Linked DNA regions of Homo sapiens: region 1 is linked to region 2. The links come from fine-mapping of genetic effects on gene expression. A gene starts in region 2. The other region holds a variant in brackets. All regions are shown on one strand. Distances are from middle to middle.

Evidence for each region.
Region 1: its variant is fine-mapped to the expression of LINC03007 in lung (TOPMed, PIP 0.97).

Annotation. Positions count from the first base shown.
Region 1 is chr7:25,850,037-25,859,112 of GRCh38, forward strand. No RefSeq gene overlaps it. Among named protein-coding and RNA genes, the nearest start is that of LINC03007, 64 kb to the left of the region's middle. RefSeq lists a silencer at 1,763-1,812 and an enhancer at 6,702-6,781. The variant T/C (reference allele first, on the strand shown) is at 5,065.
Region 2 is chr7:25,784,727-25,793,802 of GRCh38, forward strand. It overlaps LINC03007 (long intergenic non-protein coding RNA 3007), which reads right to left and starts at 5,393. Exons shown (of 5, transcript NR_157808.1): 1 at 5,027-5,393.

The DNA.
Region 1 (9,076 bases), 65 kb after region 2:
TCAACATGAGAGGAAGAGGACATATTTTTGTAATGCACGCGGGGGAGGAGGGTGGTTTTTAAAACACCAGGGACACCGCGAATGCCACAGTTATTATGTCAAGGCTCATGAGGTCAAAGTCAGTTAATAATTCCCGATTATTCTCTTAAAGATGACTAACACACAGCCCAATGCTAACAGTTTTCATATTTTAATGATCTTCCATAGAGTTTTCTAATTTATTCAACCTCAGCAGATTCCATTTCTTCATAAAAATAAAGTATTTTTCATCACAGAGGAATAACTTCAAGTTTTTCTTCAGGGATGAGAATCCAAAATCCTGACTCTGCCTGCCATGCTACTGAGCTGTCTCCATTTATCTCTCTGAAATTTTTTGGCTTACAGATTAAAGCATTAGAGGAAAAGAAACTATAAACATAAAAGAATAATAAAGATCATGATTTGTTTAATTTTTACATTCTTATTATTAAGACAGAATTTAGGAAGCAAAACTGCACTTTATCACTTTAAAATATACCCCCAAAATCACTACACTAAAGGCATTATAAAGGGTGACATTGTAAGAATATTTAATTGACATGATTTGGGAGGAAGGGCTGGCAGCACACAAGGAAGAATCGAATGTGAAAGAGAATTTGGTTAATTTTAAAATGTTATCCAAGTAATTACAGTCATTATACTTTCCTGCGGCGCAGCAAAGAAGTAAAAATATCAAGCTCTCCCGCAAATTTTCCAATATATACATACTGTTAAAACATACACATGTGCACACAAACACGTACAGTGAAACCAGATTTTGGAGTTTATCGCTTGCCAAGGTTCACCCCAGAGCAAATATTTACTGCGGAGTTACAAAATTTTCCTGAAGGAGAACCAAAATGGAAGCGTTTACATATGCTGCAAGTACTTTGTGTGCGCAGGGGCCACAAGAAAGATATAGTTTAATAAAAACATTTATGGATTTTGAAAGCAAACACAATCCAAGAGTCTTGCACATGTGGGAAAAGATGATATTCCAGCCTAACACGTTCTCTCTTGAAGATCTTTTGGCTGTTTGCAGTGAGCAAACCCCAGTTTCCTCTGGGGCCCCGCTAATCTATATTGTAAACCATTCTCAGGAAACAAATGAAAGAACCATCCGACACTGCCCTCGGAGACAGCGGCAGGGATGCGGCTCTGCTCTACAGGCAGACAGAAACTTCCCAGGATGGGCGAAGGTGGCTGCTGCATGAAGAACTGGGGTTCTCTAACCTAAACCTTCGCCACCTCCTCTTCCTATCAGGAGAATCTCTCTTAACTGATTTCCTCTGCATTCTCTCACCTCCCGGGCTACCTCCCACTTCACCATCGCAAAACGAACCCGATATTTGCAAAACTTAGGAAAAGACACACCGGCGTGCGGCCCACTGTTTCCATGCCTTTTGCCCCATGGCCTGAGAACCCACTGTATGCATGGCCTTAGAACCAAAGTTTTGCACTTCAAGTGAGCTTTGTTCACGTTCGCCCCATTTTGTTCTGCCATTAGGTCTTGCGGGTGCGCTAGCCTGCTCTTCATTAGTGCTTTTGTGCCTCATTCTTTATGAACCCCGGGCTGCATCCATCTACCTTAGCGCTAATGATCAAACGGGGGATCTTGAAATCACTCTGCGCAATTTACAAATCACACAAACTGGAAAAAGGAATTCACGCCAAATTGGACAAACTTTTGGAAAGGCCTTGTGGAGCCTTGCTCCTCTATCCTTGGGCTCTATTGCCCCCTGGTGGTTTCTCCGAGACAAACGCGGCCAGGGCTCAGCTCCGAGGCTCAGGTGTCCTGCCCTGCGGGCTGGAGCTGCTCTCTGGGACGCAGTGGGGCTGACTCGCGGGTGGGGAGGGAAGGAACCGGCAGTACGAAAATAAACGTGGAAGAAAAGGGAACTTGGGGACATTTGTCCGGCAAAAAGGGTTCAGGCTTCTCCACCTAAAACAAAAGAACATTAGAGCTGTACAAAAAAATGCGGAGATCCTAAAACAGCCCCCTCTTTCTACAGACGAGAAACTGAGGCACAGAGAGATGATGTGATTTGCCCAGTCACATCATCTGGTTGTTTATGGCTAATCTCACCAACCCTGGTCATGCTGCTTTTGGGGGATGACAGGGTTCGGGGCTCCAGGCGGCCGGGAAAGTGTGATGAGTTGGCCTTATTCTGTTGAAGACGCAAAGGAGTGATCAAATAAGGAAACCAGCAGCCTGGGAGATTTGTGTTCCAGGCCCCAGTGAACCCGTTACAGGGTGGGACTGGGTGGAGCAGCCTTCAGGCCGCCCCGGCCCCTCGTGGGAATGCGCCGCGCCCCCCGGACTCTGGAGCGGCCCGACCCTGCTTCCCAGGCCCCGGGCAGGCGGGCGGGCGAGACACAAAGCAGGCCCCGCGGGCGGTGCTCCGGGTTTCGCGAGGGCGGCGGTGCGCTTGATTGATGGATTCACGGCGTTTAACCCCCGCCGCCTCGCCGGAGGCGGCCGATCCAGCTGCGGCCGAGGGCCTAGGGTGGCCATGGGCCCGGCCCCCGCGTCCTCCGCGCCCCCGCCCCGGCTCGGGAGGGCTGCCCCCCGGGAGTGGAGAAAGGCTGATTTACAGCCGGCCGGCCGCACTCTTGCAAAATCACTGCGGCCGGGGAAACCCACTCCCAGGACTCAGCCCGGAAGAGGCCCTGAAGGGGAGCGGAGACTGGGCGCTGGGGTGGGGGCGGGGGCGCCGAGCCTCAACTTCCCGCGTCTGCTGGAAGCTTGCTCTGAGCGCCGGCTGCGGCGTTTTCCCGCCTTCTGCCCACGTTTTCGCCCGGGAGTGGGTTTCAGGAGAGCTGGGGACAGCGGCATCCCTCGCCCTGGGACCGTTGCCCCTGCGCCCGCCGCCCTGTGCCTGGGCCTTTGCACCCGGAGCGCCCCGCGCCCCAGCGCAGTCGTCCCCACGCGCCGGGATCGCCAAATTCCCACCTGGGGCCCGCCTTTACTGGGGGGCTGCAAAAGAGACTTAGAAGCAGAGATTCGGGAGGGGAGCTGATAGCTCCCGAGTCCTAAGCCACGCCTGGACAGCCCACAGGTCCCATCTCCATTTGTTTAAACACTTTTTGCCCCGTTTTCTGCAGGGCAGAAGACAAATATTAAGAGAGCAAGATTGTGCTTAGAAACTTAAGGTTCTCTTTTAAAAGACTCGTTCCTTCAGGTCTTCCTTCTTACCACCTAAGGGAAAAAAGTACCCCCTAAAATTCTTGCTTTACTTTTAGCAATTCTTACTTCAGTTTTACTATTGATACCCTCCGATCTTTTTCAAGAGGAAAAAAAAGCCAGATAGTGAAATAAAATAAGAAACGTATGGTTTCAACTTGAACTAACGAATCAGAAGTGTTGATTCTAAACTAAAAAGTGTTACTACTTTTTTTGCTTATATGTGCCTGGGTAGGATGAGTTTTCCTACAGCCTGCGAAGTTGGTCACTAGAAACAGGGGCTGGTGAAAATGTGCAGATTCTTGCCCTGCAGACACTAAGGATCTGGTGCTGGGCTAGAAAATTCACCCACAGTTAGGATGTCAGAGGGAGATATAAGTAAACGTCGGCACCCAACTCATTAGTTTCTGGCTAAATAAAAGTCAACCGACAGAGCACAAAACAACAGATCCAATGAATCCACCTTCTTGTAAAATGAGGGCTAATGGCTGTATTCTGAAAGATTTTTTTAGGTAGACTTATTTTTAAAGGCCGGTTGCAATTTTAAAATGCATAATTATAGGGTAGAGTAATCAAAAGTGAGTGTGCAATTATTCTGCTTGTATAAATGGGAGAAGAAGTCATGAAGTTTCCCAGCTAGAGAGCTGTCGACCTGTAAAATGTAAAAATGTACATCTAAAGCTGTGAAACTTCTCACTTGAGTACAGTATTTTCTTCTTTCCTCCCGTCTCCCTCTGCAAATACCGTAAGTTCTTATTCTGACCTTGATGTGGGGACAGCACGAACCCTTCTCTTCCTGATAAACCCAAACAGAAAAGCAGATATAAAAGGAGAGGCAGATGAGAAGTGGAGGTCTACACTTTCCAGGGTTCCACCCTCAAATCCCCCGCCGAGGTTGGCAAAACAAAGATTCTGCCCCCTACTACAGTGACTTGTGAGTGGAAAGAAAGTCTTGCCTATCTGTCATAGGGACCCCAAAATGAATTCCTAAAAAAGCAACGCTGCTCTAACAGCAACTGGATCGGAAAGCAGAGAAAGCAGAGATGCAACCTCGGCCCTGTGGCTCCGGCCAGGCTCTGCTCCAGTGAGACCACTCGCTGGGAAACTGAGTTTCCCCCTCGATTTCAGTTTAGTCCCTAAAAAGTTCGCCCGGCCCTGCAAACACCACGCTCAGAAACGCAGCGGCCTCTTACTCTTACCTTTTTAAAGCGTGCTTAAGGTGCTTACTTCGCTTAAGGAAATATTTTTGCAAACACTTTCACTGGATGAATATTTTACTCGCAAACTTTCCTGGGCAAAATCTCCGGAGGAAGTTTCACATTAAAGCAACAACCAACAAAGCTTATTTTTGTAATATGTGGCTCTCTAACAGTGCCAGTATGTTCTCACTTCATTTAGTTATAAAATATAAAAGTGTTTGGTTTTCAATTTTTCTAAATTACTTGCAGGGTACAAGGTGGGGGTGGAGATGGTGAGAAGGGGATCCTTATGCCATCTGGCGGTGCCATGTGGAACTTCGCTGAAGAAGCTAAATTTACTGACCATCTGTGCCTAGAGCGGGTTTCTCCAAGGAAAGGCTCTGTAAATCTCGTCCTTTTGAAATCTAGGGGAAAACAGCCTCCTTCACTGAGGATTAATTTAAAGAAAGGGGGAAATAGGAAAATTCCATGCGTTGGAAGTCCATTTAGATTTCTACATGAACCATCATATATGTGCACTACATAATTCTTATTTTTTTATTTTTAAAAAAGGGATAATTTATATTCCAGTGACAAGTTTGGGAAAGGCCAAGGCAAGCAATTGAGTTGAACATTATGTAGCGTTTATATAGACCTTGCAGACGTCTGTGCAATATCCACCAC[T/C]GAACACGTGAGGTCGTACTCAAGTCTCTCTGGCCCCTGGTAATGTGACTCCCTTCCTTTATTTGCATGAATCGCCTGGATTGGGTGTCAGGTTTTTAAAACGTCAAGGTTTACGCCTATTGTTGTCAACCAATCAGCATCCTACTTTGACGTGATTGGCTTCTACTGTAGGTGTCAATCATCCAAAATTTGCATACTACTCCTCAGGCCGCCGGGAGCCTGTCAGTCGGCTGTGGCAGCTGGAAGAGAAGGAATCGGACGGAGAAGAATGAAAAATCACTTTGCTTTCGCAAAGCGAAAGAAAAGTATTCTTTTCCTCATTATTTTTAAATAAATTTGATTGTATATTTACCTAATAAAATAAACATTCAATTAAACAAAAATAAGCAACTATCAAAGATTTGTTTACTAATTTTCGTAATGTTTACTGTTTCAATAAGTAGCCAAAGGAATATTAAAACACAAAAATATGAATGCTGATAATTTTATGTCATAAAGACCATTTTAAAACTAAAAGTGAACATGGGGTTTCTAAATAAAATTACCGTGGTAGCGTAAAAACACTGCTTTCAATACTTGGGCATGCTGAAAGTGCTGCATCCTAAGATAAAAAATACACCAAGGGGGGGATTTCAAAGAACATTATTTTGCTTTTAATAATCCTGTATTTCTGTCACTTTGCCCTTTTTATTTATTTACCGTGAACTCACAGACAGAATATTACTTGGAGTTTCTGAAATACTTGTGTTTGTACATTTCTCATCTTACACGTACCCACACACCCCAAAATAAAAAAACAAAGAAGAGGATCTCAGGGACTGAGAAGTCATTACCGGTTTTAAAATTCAGAATTCGTAAAACCGAAGCTCTAATTTGTCAGTTACAAAATTCTTCTAGAACCACTGTAATTTAGAATATGTGCAGAACTATAAGATGTTTATTATTTCTTTAAAATATATGTGAGTACAAACCAACAAGTTAACAGCTTATAATAGGAAAGCACTCTCCAGACTTCTGCCCATCTCCATCACGCCGCGGAAACTTGTCTGAAAGGAGAATTTGGATGCAACAGGGCAACGGAGCGACGTTTCTCCTCTGCACTAAGCCAGCCCTCGCCTCTGAAGAATTTTGTACTAGGCGTTCACTAGCACTGAGATGAACTGGAATTATTTCCACAGCATTAACCGAGTTAGGAAGTTTTTTTCAAACTTTGCATTTAACGGATTTTTTCCATCGGCATTTTATCTTTGCCACCATCGTTTTACTGGTTGCTGCATCTTTCTAGTTTTCTTTCCTTTTCTTTTTTTCTTGCTCTTATTCTACCTTTCTTTGCTTTCTCTCTCTCTTTTTTTTTTCTCCCAGTTAAGGATTGTCACAGTGTGCCGGGTGTCTTTGTAAGTTCGTCCCTCGTCTTCATGATTACAAGAGGCTGATATATGTGTACCTGTGCCTACAGGGGAACTGAACAGGGCTAAGTGAGTGCTGAGAGGAGCTGGGGGAGAGATGTGTGCTGCAGATGAAGGTACGGCTGGGATGTGAAGCTAATTTAGTGTGTGCTTTACAAGGAATGCACAAATCAACACAGCGCTCAAATTAAATCTCTTCTTGAGGGGCTTAAGTATCTTCTTCAGGAAGAGTAAAGCATGTCTTCTAGTTCTACTTCCTTCCCGGTTAGCCAGCTGCTGGAGAGCCCCCTCAGTAAATTCCTTCCAGATCGACCTCAGTGTGGGTGAGAGCGCAGTCTGTGACCACCAGCGCTTCTGACTCAGCGGAAAACGCCGGCAAACAGGACTACACCTCACCGCGGCGGCAAAAGCGGCCTCAGCTCCAGCACTCACAGCCACCACTTTCACCGTCGCCCCGCCACCACCACCTTCGCTGCCTCAACCCTGAGAGAGACACACACACACACACACACACACACACACACACACACACGCACGCACGCACGCGCGCGCGCACAAACACCTCTCCCTGCTGTCAATCATACATGCGCGCCATAGCGCGCATGCGCACTGGTGGACTCCAGCCCCCACCGATCCTACGCCCTGTCTCTGCGTCTGGGACCAGACGCACCAATAAGAGAGCGGATTCGGGGGCGGGCCACAAGGAAGTAGCCAATGAGAGCGCGGTTGGAAGCCAGGGCTAGAGAGGAGTAAATCCTTCTGTCGTCCCCGTTCTGCCGCCCCCGCGATGATTTATGCGTCCTTTTTATTATTTGTAACACTTTGGGAAGTTATTAAAAGGAAGATCTACTGCTTCCTCCTTTTGGGTTAAACTGGATGGCAATGTTTGTCACTGGCCCTTATTAGAGAAGAGTGTGGCGAGGTGGAGGGCCGTTGGACGCTGGGTTTGTTTGTGTGGGTCTTGTTTTTTATTACAAGACACATTATCCTTTTAATTACAAGCTGTAGACAGGGCCAACTTCGAAGGTCTTCGTGGCGGAGTGATCTTGGATCATTCAGGGGGCTGAAACCCGATGCCTTCTGACTTTCGCGTCCGTACTCTTGGCGTTGGGAGGAGCCTCTCAGGAAGGTGTTGCAACCTTTGGTTGTACCAGAAGGAAATAAGCAAACTCCCATCACCCCCACCCCCATTCCCCGCCCTAACACGGAGTAAACTTCGGCCTTTTTCCGCTTGGATGCTCATTAAGAGTTAGTTGACTTTGTAGCGGATGCAATAAAATTTGGATGGTTTCAGGCCCCCAAACAATCCTGGTTTCTGTTTTCCTCTCTCCCTAGGCACACCCCCAAGGAAATTGCCTTTTCAGCAGGCGCCTGCGGGAAAGAACCGCAGGAGACAGATTCCCTTTAGAGATCTGCATGGGGAGGAGGGAGATATGGAAATAAAGAGGGCCAAGGTAAGAGGACGGAGAGGCCATAGAGGACTTGCATGTTTGGGTGTGAGTTTTCTGGCCAACTAGGGGGAAAATCCACAAACCTGAGGTATCTGGTGGATGCGCTGAAAAATTAGCTCTCACCTGCAGAGTTACTCAACCCTCGTGCGCTTCTGCTCTGCCGGGAAGGGCCAGTCTCCGAGGGCGGAATAAGTATGGGTATTGAAAGGCAAGTAGGAAACAGCAAAAGAAAAGAACAGATACAAATTTTCTACTCCCGACCTCCAAACCAAAATCGCACTTTCAAACGTAAAACGCAATTCCAAGAAGACTGGGATGTAGGGAGTATGCGATGCCTCTGTTCAATAGGTCACTGTCAGGAACTTCAGTTTCTGGTGTTCAGATATTTGTATTTGAAATTAAGAAAATCAACGCAGGAGGGGTTGCTGGAGGATAAAGTGGGGTGACGAGAGACCGAAGGAGGGGGAGGAGGAGAGGGGTAGAAGGAACCAAGAACCATCTGATGGCAGAACTGGGCTGAAGGAAAACAAAACCGTGAACTTCAAAGCTCAGGCCTAATCTCCCTCAGGTTAATTTCTGCTTCCTAAAAAGTTTGATCAGGGTCATAAATCACTCGGTCCACCCTTGCCGGTCCTGCCTGGTTCCCCAAGGTTCTCTCCCCGCAGCCCGCTGCAGGGGCGCAGGGTGAGTCTCCAGCCCAAGACCGTCTGAGGCTTCCCGGGGCAGGAGGGCTCCCGGGGCTGAGTGGGCGCACGGATGCGCGAGAATCCGCGTGCGGGGGAAGCGGGGAGGCGAGGGTCTAGGGAAGGTGCTGGCAGTGTTGCGGGCCAGACTGTGGAGAGATCCCGTGCAGATGCAGTTTCCATTCCGTCCGGCCTCAAAAAAAAAAAAAAAACCTTCAAGTGTGTCTGGCGTGCTGTTTGAAGAAGGTTACAGCGTGTTTAGAGATTTGCAAAGCTCTGCCGAGCAGTAAAGATTAGAAAGGCCTGCCTGAGATTTGTCAAATGACTTCCGGTAGCAGAGCCCCCAGTAAACAGGGAGGGCCCGGCAGCCTCAGATCTTGGCTCGGTCGGGGCCTGTAACTCCAGGCTGCACGGCGCGGAATTGGTACGGCCGCACCAGGCGCGCTGCGAGGAGGATGGGCCTGGCCGGGGA
Region 2 (9,076 bases):
TTGTTAGGGATGGCAGTTCCCACTGGAAGGTGTGTGTGTGTTGCATTATATGTTTTGGATCAAAAAAATTTTTTTCTGAAGTAGCTTTCAACTAACTTTGCATAAATTGAGAAAATTTAAATTGCACCTAAAAGAGAATATTAGAAACTATTAGAATAAGAGGAATATTAAAAAATATTAAAATATTAATGGTAGCAGTAGTTGTAGTAGTAATCATGGTAGTAGGGTGACCAATTTTTCCGGTATGCACAGGACCATCTCAGTTACACAGCAGAAAGCCCCACATTTCAGGGTCTCTGTCCAACCCATCCCAGACAAGTTGGGACAGTTGATCACTCTAAGTGATAGAATGATATTAATAATTGTTATTATTTTTATTTTTATTTTTATTCTTATCAGAATGGCTAGAGGGGAATCTGACAGAATTGTATGGTACTTCAATCTCAAAGCCACCATCTTGATGTTGCCACTGACTGCCTAAATTGGGTTATTTGGTGGCAAGTTATCAGCGTCCAATGAAGCTGGTCCTCAAGGTTGTCATCCTTCCCCAGTGGCCATGTTCCTTCTCCCCATCTGGACTTTCAGCATCAATCTACTCAAGTGACCACCAAATATCGCCAAACCCAGTTGAATGCCTCATTGGGCCTGGTCCTCTCTCAGCAACATCTGTTCCCCTCTGAGTGTAGGGAACTCTTGGGGCTATCCTGAGCAATAATCTCTACTCTGGGTTCTTAATTCATCCCCAGGGGTCTCTCCAGGAGCTCAAGGTTTCTCTACTTGCAGATGGCCCTAAACACCTCTGGAGTTTCTGTTGTCTCGAAAAGAGCAAGAGGGACTATAAATACTATGTGTATTAGGAAGAGGAAAGCAAATGGGGTTGGGAATGCCGAAAGAGTTGGGACTGGAAATGTATTCTGAAGGTATGGTAAGGTTTAGATAGGAACAAGCAAGAGGAAATGCATTTCAAGTGGGGGAAAACACAGGAACAAAGAACTAAAGGGCATTAACAAATGTCTGGGGACTGGGAGGCAGACATGCCTCAAGGAGAGGATGAGGGAGGTGGAGATTAATGGAGAAGGAAAGATCTATACTCTTTATTCAGTAGACCAGTGTTTCTCAAACAGGACTGATTTTTCCCTCCAGGGAACATTTGGCAATGCCCAAAAACATTTTTGGTTGTCATGACTCAGTGGGGATGTAATTTGGTCTGAATGTTTATGTCCCCCCAAAATTCTTATGTTGAAATCCTCACCTCCCTACAAGATGATGGTATTAGGAGGTGGAGGCTTTGGGGGTGATTAGGTCATGAAGGTGGAGCTCTCACAAATAAGATTAGGGCCCTTATGAAAGAGACCTGAGAGACTTCTCACTCCTTCCACCCTCTGGGGTTAGAGTTAGAAGTTGGCTGTCTGTGAGGAAGTGGGTCCTCAAGAGACACCAAATCTACTGGCACCTTGATATGGGACCTCCCAGCCTCTAGAACCATGAGAAATAAATTTCTGTTGCTTATAAACCACCCAATCAATGACATCAATGTCAATAGCACCAAGGTTGAGAAACCTTGCAATAGACAATGGGGAGGCACAGGAGGTTTTTGAGCAGGAAAATGACAAAATGATGTCAATGCCGATAGCTTCATAAAGCTGAGAGGAAATTAGCTAGCACAAGAACATCTCTCTTTATGCAATGGAGCATTTCCTAAAAAGCTTTGTGTTTTTTGTGTGTTTTTCTTTAAAAAAATCAATATTTTAGAAATTCAATTTTATTTTAAATGTACTAGAGCAGCTACTAGACAAATCTAGGGATGAATACACTCCTAGAAAGTGAAGAATCTTGCCAACGCAAGCATCATTCCTGTCTCATTCTGATATATCCAAATGGCTGTACTTTAGTGTCTCTCAAAGTGGGTTACACCTAAGTCTCTTCCAGACACCGGAGGACAATGCAGGCTTCCCCCCAAAGAATGGAAGATGAGAAGCCAGATTCCCTGGTTCCTACCCACTGTGTGACCCAGAGCAGCTCTATATTAGATCATTAGCTGCTTCCAGGATCATCATTTCTTTTTCTCCATGATTCATTGACTCTTAAATGCAACCATTTCTTCACCCTGTCATTGTGGAGCACATAATCCAAAATTTTATTGAAATCAAGAGATGTTTTCCTTGCTATTATATTGGGAGCAGAATACGATTCCTTTGAACACTTCCAAAGTTCATTTTTGTTTCTCAGTGACTGCTTTCAAGTTTTCAAACAAGAAAGGATTTTGTTTTTCTCTGGCTAAAGCTTATTTTTACCCAGCCTTGGTTTTCTTTCCTTTCCTTTAAAAATCCTCAGCACATCTAAGTACACTAAATATTTATGAATGTAATTTATGAGCTTTGGCCGTTTACTCCTTGCCAAAACTAAAAAGTATGTCTGTGTGTGGCCTGAAAAATCCCAGCTATGACAAAACCAAAACAGAGAAATAAGCAACTACTTCACATAAAAAAAGAGAAAAAGAGGTCAAACTTCACAAAAGTCCAGAAATTACTCACTTGACATATTCAGACTGGCACAAAGGAAAATAAATAATATTACATCTCCTCCAAGAACCTTGTCCTGTATGTCCTGCCTCAGATGTCCTGCAGTAAACATTTATTGAGAGCATCAGGAGGGAAAATGTCCCAGGCATCTGAAAGACAGAGGCCTGCAGCTTGCTGGGCAGCTAGGGCCCAGGGTGCTGCCCACCTCAGCCCTGTCCCCCAAAGCCTGTGTCAGCTGCGTATACTGAGCACTTAACTGTGCAGGAAGGGAAGTCAGCAGATCTCTAATGAATTCCTGATCTGACTCCAATCCCTCTCTTCCTTGAACACATTTCTTTGGAGAATCAAAACCCAACATCTGGAATTTGGCTTTTCACTGTCACAGGATGTCTCCAATGCTGGCTCTTGTTTCTGGAGTTACATAATTTCTCCTAAGCAGCTTTTTTCTCACTTCAAAAAGAAAGTGAGAGAGATTGCAGAGGAAATGCCTATGATATTAAAAAGTCATAAGCACTCATCTGTGATAACAAAAAAGCAGTGGTCCTGGACACACATAGGTTCTGATAGTTAACGACGAACTTGAGGGAATGAGGCCTGGTGGAACTGACCATAAATGAACAGAAATAAAGAGTGTGAGGAAAAGAGGTAAATGCCTCATGATGTGCAAACATTGTGGCAGTGGTTTAAACATCTCAGGAAGGAATTGAAGAATCATTGGTTTGATAGGCATCTGGTTAGCTCAGACCATCTCATCAAGATAATCTTATAAACCTTCAATCAACGGTTGGCTTAAAGTCTTTAAGCCTTGCCACTAGACACCTCCTGCATACTGCAGAAGGGCCACCTTGGAAGCGCATACTGCAGTGTTCAAGAAAGAACCTGAGGCAATTACAGACACCTGTCTATAGCAGCCAGACCCCAGACCAGCCCACAGCTTTCACTGGGCAGACCTTGGCTTTTCACCCAAGATTCCACTGGCCCCACTGAGTGGAAATGAGCTTTGTAAACCACTGCTTGTTCTCTTGAAAGAGGCAGTTGACCTAATGGCTGATTATTTTCCTGAAATGGCCCCTTGAACTGGAGTTCCATTCTCCCTATTAAAGGAGAACAGGAATAAATACAATCCAAGAATCATTATAAACAGAGTTTTACTCTCCTCCTGTTGAAACTTCTACCACAGCTCTAAAGTGCCTCAGTGCAGAAGATTTAAGAAAAAAAATAGGTCCATTCTTAAATGCTCAAGGATTTTAATCTCAAAATGTATGTAAGTTCTCTGCCTAACCCAGAAATGAGAGCCAAGAGCAGCTGTGTGTGTGTGTTTGTGTGTGAGCATGAGTGGTGTTGGGTGAGTGTGATGACATTGTTGAATATTTTATCCTCTTCCAAGAAACCAGTATTGGTAAGTAGATTAGATTGAATTTCTCTGGAATCTCAAGATGTCTCTCCATTCAGAGTGCTTAAACATAAGAAAGGTTCTAAAGTTGTCATAAAGTCATCAACTTTAAAACTGAACACTGTGTGCCTGGTGCTTGGGATTCAATAGTTAACAGGTATGGTCTCTCCTCAGGAAGCCTATGGTCTAACAGGAGATCTAGATGATGAAATAGGCAATCACCATTTAGGGCAATAAGTGTCCATTCACGTCACAATGGGAAGTTTGAGACTCCCTGGAAGCATATATGAGAGTCACTTAACTCAGTCTTTGGAAGTCAAGCAAGGCATCATGGAAGAAATGACATCTAAGCTGAGATCAGAGAAGCAAGGCAAAAGTTTAAAAGAGAAAGGACAGAACATCAAGGCAGAGGCAATCTTAATTGCAAAGCCCCAGAAAGGAAAGTGCATGGCTTTTGGCTGAAATGTAATTAACAGGCGATAAACAAAGACAGATTTCATAAAGAGGGATCAACAAACCTTTCTGTAAAGGACAGACAGTAAGTAATTTAGGATTTATGGGTCATGCACTCTGTTGCAACTATTCAATTCTGCTGCTGTAACTAGAAAGCACCCATGGACAATATGTAAATGAATGTGTTTTCATAAAACTTTATTTACAAAAACAGGTTGTAGGTCAGACCCAGCTGACATCCTGACTCTGCTGGCACCTGAACCCTCACTGTTCTGTGGTCCCCAGGCCAGCAGCATCAGCATCACCTTGGCAGCTCATTAGAAAGGCAGACTCTCAGACTCTCCCTTCTGACCTATAATCTGAATTTTACATTCGAGAGATCCCCAGGTTGACAGAGCCCTGTTAAGGCATTTGGTCTCTGTCTTTGACACACTCATGTATGCATGTTTGAAAGATCCCTGTGGCTACAGTACTGCAAGTACACAACAGTGAGCAGCTCCTGAAATTTTGTCTCCCTCGTTGCCCAACTTGCCTCCCTTATACCTGGTCCTGGTGAGGAAAATGGACAGTAGAGGGCAAGACGGCAGGATGGTTTCTCTTTTCTCCCAGCCCCTGAAAGCCCACCCCTATCCCACCTCCCTTCACAACAAAGGCTGACCTTCAAAAACTACTGGAGGTAGTACTCATTACGCTTCCCAAAGGCTAACCGACTGGGTGTATTTCTAAGTCTCACTTGAAGCCATTCTTCTAGGGACCTCCTACCAGACCAGAGCTGGGCATCGTGTTTCTCTGCTGTCCATTAGGTCCTCCTTTGTTCCCATAGACATTCCATAGCACTCTGGGGGTCCAGTCTTCTGGGCCAGTTCCACCTCTAGAGGTATTTCTGGCCAAATGGGCTTGATGTCGGCTTCCAGACAAGCATGCAGGCAGCAGCTCTGAGCGTGAGCAGAATAAAGCCCCTTAATTAGGCAAGAGAGGGACTCAGCCAGCTGTGCACACTTGAGGGAAGACATCCATCAAAGAATGCATCTCCCTTCCCTACCTTTTATTTATGCTTTAGAAAATCCAATTAAAGCCGAGCCTGGCACTCTCCTAACTTTCAGCCATTTAACACATACAACAGAGTTGCTGGCCATGAATTTAAACACGCACATACACACACAGTCATGCGTGCACACAAAATAAACATGCACACATCCTGTTTCTTCCTTGTGGGCTCCCAGGACTTAGGGACTTTGGGTGTGCCTGTGGACGCTTAGCCAAAACGATGACCAAAGGTTGGTCAGAAAATGTCATTCAGCTGCTTTCGCTGGTTTCTCATGTCTTTTCCACTGCATCTGATGATTATATTTCATCCACATGCCTTTCCTGCTCATTTGGGCTTGTCCTTGGGGATGATTCACTGAGATTATGCTGATGTGAACAAACTCTGTGAACGTTTTTCCCTGCTGTTTCACTGGTTTAAGATTAGACTGCCACTTTATAGTCCAACCTTCACTTTGCTGGCAGTACCTTGATAACGTATGGCCCCAGGAAAGACACCCTGTGGAAATTACTGCAATTATCAGGCTTGGACAAAATGGACACTGGGAATTTCCTGGTGTGGGGCATGCTGAGCTCCTCATGTCTGTAAATGCCCCATGCCAGGTCAACTACTCTGTCACCTGAGTGCAGGAACTCAACACACATGCACTCAGTCACCTGAGCCCCCGAGAGTACCTTCTCACATCTAGAACCCTGTAAATGCTCTTTCTGTCCTACCAGTGTATTTGGTACATGACAAAGCTTAACATTTTTTAAATGGGATAAACCCCAGGCATAGTGTTGGGAACTTGGATTTTAGGGTCAGCCAACTTTAGTATGAATCCCCATTCTGCTTACTAGCTGAGTAACCTTGAACATGTGGCCTAACCTTCTCTATGACTCAGTTTCGCTATATTTTAAAATGAGGATAACGATAGTACCTGGCTCACAGGGTTATGGTGAGGGTTCTATGAGATCATGCACATGGAGGAGTTGGCAGAGTGAATGGAACATGGTAACACAAACAAATGTTAGCTATAATTCCCAGGGTTTATTATTGTTAAAGCCTTCCCTCCAGCTTTCGCTAATCCATGTGTGTCCCTTCTCTCAAAAGCTTTCCTAGCTAAACCCAGCCAGCCAGGACATGATTTTGGTTCTTGTTCGCCAGCACATTTAAATAGGGCTGCTAGTGGCTTTGCTTTTACTGGGTTTTCAAAAAATGTTTCCCATTTACATGTTTTATCTCCTCAAGCAAATTATAAATTTCTTAAGGGAGAGGACCTGATCTTGTTTTGCTATGACCCTCCCACACCCTAAGATATTTACCATAATGATTACATCTTAATCATTTTCCCCTTATAGTATCAATGTTTATTTTAGATTTGGGGATACATGTGCAGGTTTGTTACGTGGGTATATTGCATGATGCTGAGGATTGGGGTACAAATGTTCCCATCACCCAGGTAGTGAGCATAGTACCCAACAGTTTTTCAACCCGGGCTTCTCTCCCTCCCTCCTCCTTCTTGTAGTTCCCAGTGTCTATTGTTGCCATCTTTAACATCTTAATCTTTGATGAATAAATTTTATTTAAGAATATATAGCATAATGTGTATTACAAGTAACATGGATTTGGTTTGGTTTATCATCTGTGGTCCTGTGACCTGTGCACATGGAGAAGCACAGACTAAACAGAAATTTCCTTTTGTCATTAAAGTAGTCAGAATGCCAGCTCTGTAGCCTGACTTCCCAGTTTGAATTCAAGCTTTTCTCGTTACTAATCATGTGACTGGGGAAAGCTTCCTAACTCTCCCAGCCTTGGTTTACTTATCTGTAAAATGGGAATTTGGGTGAAGATTAAATGGGTTAGGGCAAGTTAGGTGCTCCAGAACATTGTAATTTATTATTGTTTATAAATAATTTGATATAAAATTAATACTACAAACACATTTGCAGAGAAGAATGGCATTAAATAGAGGAATAAACTATTTGATAAAAATTATACTATATTGACTTTTTAGCATAACCCATAATCACATGCCAAATAAATTGTGTAAATGATGCAATTGTTTTTCCCTTAACAACTTTTTTTTACATAAGTATATACAATCTTTATTTTCAATAAAGAAATAATATGAAAAGAAGAATCACAACACCCAAAAATCCCCCCCAAAATTTAGCTTTTCTGTAAGTGTGTGGTAGTGTTTCATCATGGTTTTGATTTGCCATTTCCCTAATAATTGACGATCTTAAGCATCATTTCAGGTACTTATATGCTCTCATTGAGTTAAATACATATTCAAATAAGTTGTCCATTTTTTAGAATTATTTTTTATTTTATTGAGTTTTGAGAGTTCTTTATATATTCTGGACACAGTTCCTTTGCTAGATATGTATTTTGCAACTATTTTCTCTCTGTGGCTTTTCACTTTCTGAACATGTTTGAAGAGCAGATTTTATTAAAAATTTTGATGATGTCCAATTAATCATTTTTAATGACTCTTCCTTGTGTACTAACAAATCTTTTCCCATCACAGGGTCATAACATTTTCTCTTTTTTTCCTAGTAAAGTGTATTAGTCTATTCTCACACTGCTATAAGGATATATCTGAGACTGGATTTATGAAGAAAAGAGGTTTAATTGGCGCACAGTTCCACAGACAGTACAGAAGGCGTGGATAGGAGGCCTCAGGAAACTTACAATCACGGCGGAAGGGGAAGGGGAAGCAAGCACGTCTTACTACGGCCAAGCAGAAGAGAGAGAGAGAGAGAGCGAAGGGGGAAGTGCTATACACTTTTAAACAACCAGATCTCACTCACTATCACGAGAACAGCAAGGAGGAAATCTGCCCCCATGATCCAGTCACTTCCCACCAGGCCCTTTCTCCAACATGTGGGGGTTACAATTCAAAATGAGACTTGGTGAGGTCACAGAGCCAGTGGGAGTCAAGGTTTGATTTTTTTATTTTTTGGCATATAGCTTTCTTTTCTTTTTTTTTTTTTTTTTTTTTTTTTGAGATGGAGTCTCGCTCTGCTGCCCAGGCTGGAGTCCAGTGGTGTGATCTCGGCTCACTGCAAGCTCCACCTCCTGGGTTCACGCCATTCTCCTGCCTCGGCCTCCCGAGTAGCTGGGACTACAGGCGCCAGCCACCATGCCCGGCTAATTTTTTGTATTTTTTAGTAGAGACGGGGTTTCACCCTCTTAGCCAGGATGGTCTCGATCTCCTGACCCCGTGATCCACCCTCCTCGTCCTCCCAAAGTGCTGGGATTACAGGCGTGAGCCACCATGCCCGGTCGGCATATAGCTTTCAAATTGTTCCAGCAACATTTGTTGAAAACATTGTTTGTTCTCCTTTGAATTATCTTGGCATCTTTGTGGAAAATCAATTGACAATATATGTGTAGGTCTATTTTTGGACTTTCTATTCTGTTCTGTTGATTTATCCCTCTAACTTTACATTAACACCATGTCGTCATGCTCAAATAGCTTTATAGTAGACTGTATCAGATGGTGTACAACTATTATGTGTCAATTTTTAAAAAGCTATTCTTGACCTGACATGATGGCTCATGCCTATAATCCCAGCACTTTAGGAGGCTGATGTGGGAGGATCACTTGAGGCCAGGAGATGGAGACCAGCCTGGGAAATATAGCAAGACCTCAATTCTAAAAAACAAAATTAGCTG